Regions from separate parts of the Homo sapiens genome. Here all the other regions are linked to region 2. Evidence: fine-mapped expression QTL. A gene starts in region 2. Each other region holds a variant in brackets. All regions are shown on one strand. Distances are between the middles of the regions.

Region 1 (2,761 bases), 170 kb before region 2:
ACATACTATAGCTATCCGCCAGCTACACATACCTTTCCTTAGAAAATGACAAATCCATTTGAAATCAGGGTGAAACATTTAGATAGGCTTAACACTTATGTGTCCCGAGTCTCTCTTATCAGAGGAAGAAAATATAAAAATAACGAGTCCTAGGCTTACACAGTGACCTGAGCCACAAGCTGGGTGCAAAAACCCAGGTTTTGGGTTTAACCAACAGAGGAGAAATACTGGCTGGCTCTTCTGAAGAAAATTACTCACAATGCATTGCTAAAATTTATTCTTGAGAACAAAACCAGAAAGAAGGGATGAATTGGGACATAGAAAAAAAAACTTAAGCTTGATTCAGCTATCAACCGAGAGACCCTAGAATTGATGGTGACAGAGCAAACAGCAATTGTCCAGGGAGTACTTAAAACCACCTCTGTGTGTGATCATTGCCTCTATGATATGATTTCAGGGTTCTGGGAAATGTTTCTCATGTTGGTTGGCCATATATACCAGGCATTGCCAATAGTAACTAATAAAGACATCTATAAAAAATGTATAAGGAAATAGAAAACAAATACACAAATACACCATATTATTGCAATTTATGTTTTCACAAAAAACTCCTGTCACATTGCAACGTTGGTCAAAAAGATCTTCAGAGCATAACTCTGGGCAGAACTGTTCCTGCTCCTGGAAAAGTGAACCACAGTTTACAGCCAACACCCCAGTCAGAATGTCTTCTTGCCTTTGTCTAGTGCTTTGTAGATTACAAAACTGTTCTGTGAACATTTTCTCCTTTGATTCTCAGAATTTGTGTGTGTAGTGGACATTATTATTACTATTTTGTGTTTAAAGGAACCAAAGATCTTACCTACTTCTTCCAGCTTACTTCCCACCACATTCCTCTTATCTCTCTCCCCCAACCTCTCCAGGCTCCCTCTGGCCTTCCTCACACTTCGTGTTCTCAGCAAACTGAAATTCTCTGAATTCAAGTTCCCTGCTTGCAGCTCTCTTTTCTCCCTGTCTAAAACGCAGTTCCTTTCTTTCAAAGCACTTGCTCCTCGGATATTTATTTAACCTCTTCAGACTCAGCTTAAACCATGAGAAAGCTCTCTCTGACCCTTTAAGACAGACGT[G/A]TCTCCTCTGCACTGCCATAGGCTCCTTCCTGTAGGTCCCCTAAAATAGCTCTTATGGCACTTGGTTTTAATGACCTGCTTAATGGTCTGTCTTCCTCACTCAGCTTAGAGTCCATGAAGGCAGAAATCATCTCCAGTGCTGAAAAGATGTAGGTACCTAAAAAATATTTGTTGAAAGAATGAATAAAGTTACTTCCTCAGGCTCACAGAAAGGTGAGTGTCAGACCTGGGATGAAAATTCTGATCTGCTTCCAGTAAAGGGCCAGTTGTTATGTGGTTGACTGACACATGTGTTTTCAAGATGAAAGAGAGTATAACCATGTCAAAGAATGTTCAGAATAACTAGATCAGGTGAAGAACTCTCAGTAAATGTTAATCAACAAAATGTTAAAATTCACTAGACAAATCTGGGATATATCACCAAACTATTCACAATATGCCAAAGTCACACTCTTGACCTTCTTCTAGTGGAAATCATAGCTCCAAGAGGAAAAACACAGTATGTAATCTAAATGTTGGCCACAATGTCCCTCAAAAAGCATCAAACTGGAGCTTGACCATCATCTTGTCCCTCAATTAAGCAACTTTGTGTTAAATGCAAAGATGGTGCTGCTGACTCACACAAAGTTCTTTGCAATTTGAACACACAAGGTCATCCCTGAACAAGGTGAAAGTTGCTTCTGATGTTGTCTCAGCATCAAAAACTTGACAAAATTAGTCAGCATTCTTCACCAGTATCAAAGTCATCTTTAACTTGCGTATTTGTCTGCAGCTGTTATATCATCTTTCTATGTCTTTCTCCTTGGCTGTTCCTTTGTTCATGTAAATTTGCATTCAGGCCCTCCTTCTCCACCAAATGTTCTGACTGCTTTCTTTTCTCCCCTTGGAACAGAAGCATATGGCTTGCATCTGAAATCTATCCCTCTCATTTCTTTTTTGGCCAATCCGGTTAAACAATTGGCTCCACTGCTTTTCTCCACCAAAATGACTGGGTGTTTCACTTGCTTACCCAAAGGGTAGAGTTATCTGACTTTAAGCAGATGAGCCAACATTAATTTTGCAATTTGGAAGCTAAAGTATTGTCTCTGATCACAAAGTTTATAGGCATTAAAATCAACTCAGCTCAACTAGAAACAATTTCAAATCTTTCCTGCGAATTCAAAACAGAAACTTCTAAAAAGATAGTTTCATTACTTTTAGGGAGACATTTAAACACTACCTCTTCATATTTCCTTGGAAGGGAAAAAAAATACATTTCATTCCAAAGAGGAAAAAAATGGGAAAGGCGTTTTTGTCCTTTCTATCTGTTCTTTACTTCCTAAGAGCAGAAGAGTAAATTATCAGATTGGCAAGAATGGAAGAAGGAACTGAACACTGGCAAGAATGGAGGAAAGGGCAGTGTAACCAGCCCCTTCCAACAGATTCCAACATGTCCCAATTTCACTCCTTCCCTGGGCAAGAAAGCTAGGGCAGGGGGAAAGCCTGCAGTATTCTTACTGGGCTGTCTGCAGCTTGGTGAGTACATTGGTTCAACTCATGGGGAAGCAATTAGGTAACCTAATTATAGCCTCTCCTCCAAGCCATGTTTCCGAATCTGCTATTTCCAGTACAAAAAAAAGACTGATATTCATTTATCT
Region 2 (2,761 bases):
ACTTCCTCGGGCTCAGGATAGTCTTCTGGGGGACTGGTGAGCTTCAGCTTGCTCAGGATCTGCCCGCGGATCGCCTCGATCCTCTTGCGCATGAACTGGTCCATATCGAGTGTGCTGCAGGTAGACAGGCTGAGCGCGACCGTGACCAGATGCAGGATCAGAAAAGCGCTCAGCACACAGTAGTGCATTTTTTAAAAAAGTGGAAAAAAAAGTTGTTTTTAAAAGTCAGAATAAAAAAAAGAAATCAACAATTCTCAAAGTATAGATCAAGGAGAGTTGTTTGGTTTTTTGTTGTTGTTGTTTTTGATGCGAAACTTTTGCAAACAATCTAGTCAATGCCCAACAGAAAAACGTATCCTGCTTGAATTCCTTTAAAAAGAAAAGGCCAGTAGTTCCAAAAGTGGAAATATTAATACGGGACGGGCAGAGGGAACCCTGACTTTGGCGAGTAAGAAGAAAAAAATTCTTGGAGCAATGAGATGGGGAAAAAAAGAGACGAGTGGCTATTAAGTAGAAATAAATTTAAGAGGAGGAAGTGGAGTTCAGTGTGTCAGTCTCGGGTGCGGAGTGGCGGATCTGAACTCGGCTCCTCCGGCCAAAAGGGAAGAGATGAAAAGGTCCCGGGGCTGGCAGCTGGCGAACTGACGGGAGGGGCGCCGGGAGCGCGGTGAGGGGGGCCGCCGAGGCTGACCTGGGCTGAAATTTATATATTTAAAGAAGGAGCGGTTCGGTCCTGCCTTCCACTGCGGCGCTGAGAGCAGGAGCAGCAGCAGCTCCGGAGCAGAGAAGCGCACACGTGTGTGCGTGCGTGTGTGTGTGTGTGTGTGTGTGTGCGTGTGCGCGCGCTGGGGGCGAGCCCAGCGCACCGCGGGGAGGAGGGTGCGCTTCGCAGGGCGCTCGGTACTCGGTCGGGTGCCGCAGGGGCCGCAGAGGCTGCTGAGGCGGCGCGGATCCTGCTCTGGGAGCTGCGCTCCGTGGCCTACACCCTGGCGGGCGCGCGCTGACCCGCTTGGTTACTCCACGTTGCTGCCGCCGCCGCTTGCAAACGCTTCCAGCCTCCAGCTCCCTCCTTCTCCTGCTCCTCCTTCTCTTGCTCCAAACGCCAACCCAGCCACAGACGATCAGCCGTCGCGGTTGCGTTCACCCCCTGCGGATCACAACGGCAGCCCTTGCGACACCCTGGCTGGGGAGTTTTATTCCTGAGGGGGTTGCGCAGGGGCTCCCTTGGACTCCCACCCTTTCCCAACCTCTGCTGGCTTCTCCCCAACGTGGAATTGCTCGCTTAGGGTAGGTAGGCACTTGCCACCCTAAAATAGATCCTCTCTGTCTCCTCCTGTCTGCAGCCGGGCAGCCCCTCAGTTTGTTCCTGGATGACTCCCTAGACCGTCAGGCTAATATTCTCCATCCCCCTCCCCTGCCTCTTTCACTTGCGCTCTCGCTCTGCTGTCTCTTTCTCTCTTTCTCTTTCTATCTCTATCTCAATCTGTCTTTCTCTTGTCAGGAGCTTCTGGAGCTCCGCTCGGAGCGAACCTTCTGCTGCCAGCAGATAACATCACGATCTTGCCGGGGAGGGGAGATTTATAAGTTCTCTCTGAACCACGTGTCTGCCTTCAACAAAGTGACGTGCTAGGATTACAGTCAGAAGTCCTCTCGTTACTTAGACCACGAGCTCTCCCCGAACCGTTGAGGGAGTGTGGAAATGAGGACCGCTGTGGGTAAGGGAGGAAGGAGGTGGAATGTGCGCCCTGACAACAGTGATTTACGGTATTTACTTTCCAGTCATTTTGGACAGGTCTGTTGAAGGAAGGACAATCAAGTCTCCCGTTTTTACTTAGTGTAGCTCAGTCACAGCCTCCCAAGCTGAATCACTTGCTCTAGAAGGGAAGGCTTCCCTCCTGTATTATGTGTGCACACGCACCCCTATGGGAGGGAGCACTAGTCTACTCAGGGCCAGGCCAGTACTGAAGACATACCTTCCAATCTTTTAAATTCATGTCCTACCTCTTATTTTCTGGGATACCTTAGCAGGTTGCCATCCCAGAATTTATTTTGTTAGTTTGTTGTTTACAATGTACCCCTCTGTTTGTGAACTGCTGGAAAACAGAGATCCATCAATTTTACCTAAAGAATAAGGTATACTTGTTTGTTTTACTGATTTGAATGAATGGTCACCTTTATAATTTGCTGCCTAAGCCACTTCTTGTATGGCTTTCTTCTTCACCTTCTTGCTAGGCTAAACATTATCAACCAACTTCATTCTTTCCATAGCATTAATCCAGGAAGCTGGAATTTTAAGTGTTTGATGTCTACTGTTCTACACTACTCATAACTTGACATTTTCAATTTCAACTAAGTCTAAATTAGATGAATACAAGAATAACTCTTACCACTGTTCCACCTTCCCTTTTTCTTTTATTTTACCTTTAGTTACTCAAAGTCAACATTTTCATTTCGGCATGACTCTGCAGCCATACTGACCAGACAGATGATTTAAACTGGAAACTCTGTTGAATGTACTCCCAAACCCAAGATCTCTATACTGTTCTCTACTTCAGATGTTCCTGAGTTCAGAAAAGTCACAAAGAACTTTCTATCACTTTTGGAATTTATACTTCAGTTGTGTATGGGGCCTAGGTTATTAGTAGAGCACTGAATAAATAAAATAATAATAGCTAACATATACTACACTTAGTAATTTGATGTGTGTTGTGTATGGTCATTTAATCTTCACTATGAACCTATAAAGTGGGTCTTATTATCC
Region 3 (2,761 bases), 170 kb before region 2:
AACAAATGATATAAAGAATATGGAGAAGCCAGGCACAGTGGCTCACATCTGTAATCCCAGCCCTTTGGGAGGCCAAGGTGGGTGGTTCACTTGAGGTTAGGAGTTCGAGGCCAGCCTGGCCAACATGGTGAAACCCCATCTCTACTAAAAACAAAACAACAACAAAAAAAATTAGACCAGTGTGGTGGCAGGCACCTGTAAATCCCAGCTACTAGAGAGGCTGAGGCAGGAGAGTTGCTTGAACCTGGGAGGCAGAGGTTGCGGTGAGCCGAGATCGTGCCACTGCGCTCCAGCCTGAAAGACAGAGTGAGACTCTGTCTCAAAAAAAAAAAAGAAAAGAAAAGAAAAGGAGATGGAGAGTATCAATCTACTTGAAATCTACAGAAAACGGATCAATTTCTAAAGAGAAATGGAAAAGGACCTGGAAAGGTCAATGAGTTGGTAACCTTGAGTTCTGTTATCTTAATTATTTAAAGTAGACATTCAGAATTCAATACAGAATTCTGGATAGCATAATGCCTTGATAGAAAGTATGCTTGAAGACAACTTCCTGTTGTGTATCAACTAAATAGAGCTATAGGAGAAAAACAGCCCAACTCTGTAAAAGGTTCTACACAAATGTTGAGAGCAAGAGGGTCGCCATCTTGCTTTGTGGTTGTGGAGTGCAGGCAAAGGAGAGAGGACTGAAGAAATGCACAGAGAACAGTGAACAAACCATGCAGAAGAGCAGCCAAAACCCAGGGCTTAGTTAGGTTGTCTTAACCCTAGCTGCACAATAAAATCACCAAATAGACCAGGTGGGGTGACTCACACCAGTAACCCCAGCACTGGGAGGCTGAGGCGGGCGGATCACGAAATCAGATCGAGACCATCCTGGCTAACACGGTGAAACCCGTCTCTACTAAAAATACAAAAAAAAAAAAAAAACAAACAAAAAACAAAACAAAAAAAAAAACTGGCCAGGCATGGTGGCAGGCGCCTGTAGTCCCAGCCACTTGGGAGGCTGAGGCAGGAGAACGGTGTGAACTGGGAAGGTGGAGCTTGCAGTGAGCCAAGATCGCACCACTGCACTCCAGCCTGGGCGACAGAGCGAGACTCTGTCAAAAAAAAAAAAAAAAAAAAATCACCAAATAACCGACCCAGACCAATCAAATTCTAGTCTCTCCAAGCTGAGATGATATTAGTCTTTTTTTAAAAAAACTCCTCACACATTTCTACCATGCAGCCAGAGTTAAGAAGCACCAGCCTAGTGCCCAGGAACACCGCAG[C/T]GGCAAAGATTATTAGGAGTCAATGATTTTATTAAACTGACCTGTTTAGTGAGATGGTGGCAAATTCTTTCAAGGTAGATTATCTGTAGGGAGAAGGAAGTATGGGCGTTCAAGGCAAGAGATAGAAAGTGGAAGTCATTAACTTACAGGGGATTTTTCTTTTTTTTTTTTTTTTTTTGAGATGGAGTCTTGCTCTGTCACCCAGGCGTGATCTCTGCTTACTGCAACCTCCACCTCTCGGGTTCAAGCAATTCTCCTGCCTCAGCCTCCCAAGTAGCTGGGACTATGGGCATGTGCCACCAAGCATAGCTAATTTTGACTTACAGGGGATCTTTAAAGCTGTGTTAGCAGGTACCTCTAAAAGACTGCAGAGAGAACAGAGAAACTAACACAGATTTGTGGACCACTGCTTCCATGGTTTATCAGAGTAATGAGTGGATTATGGGTAAATAAAATGGGAAATCAGCAAACAGGAATCAAAAAGCAGGGGCAAACCGTCAGTCATCAATCACATGCAATGAAAAGATCCCTTGTCAATACTGAACTCTGACTTTTTGCATTATTTTCTTCCTTCCCTCCCCTTCTAAATGGGCTTAGCTTTACCAGGTAGTCTCCTAGCTTTGTAGAATTTTTCCTATAAAATGCTTGCCAAAAGAAAGAGAAACACTTGCCTACCTTTTCATGTCTGCCCTTAAACATGTGAGTGGCACTCCAAGTGGTATTTTCCTCCGTCTCTGCTCTATTTTAGCTGACTGTTTCCTGCTGCCTGAAATTAGCCTGCCCCTAACTGTATAGATTACTTAGGTATGGCTTGCCTAGAGTAATAGATCCTAGTATTAAAAACTTTTGAATAATTCCTATCCACTAAAGTTATTTGATTTTAATTGAACTGAGCAGAATAAACTGACCTCTTCCAAATATTAATAAGTCAGATTGAATGAATCTTTCTGGGTTTTATTCTGCCTCTTAGCATCAAAGCAGAATTTTCCAACTTGAAAATCTTAAAAAGAGACCCTCAGTTATAGTCCGCTTTTAATGCCTGCTTAACTCATTCTGAAATAAATAAGTGGTAAAAGGAACAGGACTACCATCATCTGCTTAGGTTAATCATTGGTAGTGGAAAAAAATTGCTGAGTCAGCCACAGTGATGCTGTGCTGGTTAAAGTCTCACAGATCCTCACAGTTAATGACCATGATTGGTGAAGCAGTTCTCCAATATCACCTTTATTGTCTGTATGAAATCCTTCATATTTTGTAAGAGATGTAATTTCACTCTGTGTTCACATGGTATTGTCAACCACCAACAGTCAATGAGAGACAGATAACATAAGATGGACAGAGGTGGAACAGAGACGATAGAAACAGAAACCAGGGCCACGTTGTGGGAGAAAGTACAGCATGGGTTAGTTCCATAAGTGGTCAGTTCAATCGTGAATATTTTTACTTTATGATCACTCGTTCTTCTCGGTGTAATCTTGTAACTTCTGGGACTC

Which allele goes with the higher level. Positions count from the first base shown, and alleles are read on the strand shown. Sizes are in standard deviations (SD) of each study's normalised expression. Not every link is listed here.
As copies of T replace C in region 3, the expression in thyroid of the gene that starts at base 1,554 in region 2 goes down (small effect, 0.29 SD a copy in GTEx).

The links. PIP is the estimated chance that this variant, and not a neighbour inherited with it, causes the effect. A credible set is the group of variants that fine-mapping cannot tell apart.
Region 1: its variant is the best candidate, but not a certain one, in a credible set for the expression of TGFB2 in blood mononuclear cells (TOPMed, PIP 0.62).
Region 3: its variant is the best candidate, but not a certain one, in a credible set for the expression of TGFB2 in thyroid (GTEx, PIP 0.69).

Annotation. Positions count from the first base shown.
Region 1 is chr1:218,517,663-218,520,423 of GRCh38, reverse strand. All of the region lies in intron 1 of LINC02869 (long intergenic non-protein coding RNA 2869), which reads right to left. Among named protein-coding and RNA genes, the nearest start is that of LINC02869, 8.9 kb to the right of the region's middle. The variant G/A (reference allele first, on the strand shown) is at 1,125.
Region 2 is chr1:218,344,129-218,346,889 of GRCh38, reverse strand. It overlaps TGFB2 (transforming growth factor beta 2), which reads right to left and starts at 1,554. Exons shown (of 7, transcript NM_003238.6): 1 at 1-1,554. The coding sequence starts at 188. It overlaps TGFB2-AS1 (TGFB2 antisense RNA 1), which reads left to right and starts at 1,212. Exons shown (of 3, transcript NR_046268.1): 1 at 1,212-1,287; 2 at 1,502-1,715; 3 at 2,428-2,694. RefSeq lists enhancers at 1-5, 1,137-1,186 and a silencer at 1,567-1,626.
Region 3 is chr1:218,510,221-218,512,981 of GRCh38, reverse strand. The region is part of intron 1 of LINC02869 (long intergenic non-protein coding RNA 2869); the gene reads right to left. Among named protein-coding and RNA genes, the nearest start is that of LINC02869, 1.5 kb to the right of the region's middle. The variant C/T (reference allele first, on the strand shown) is at 1,269.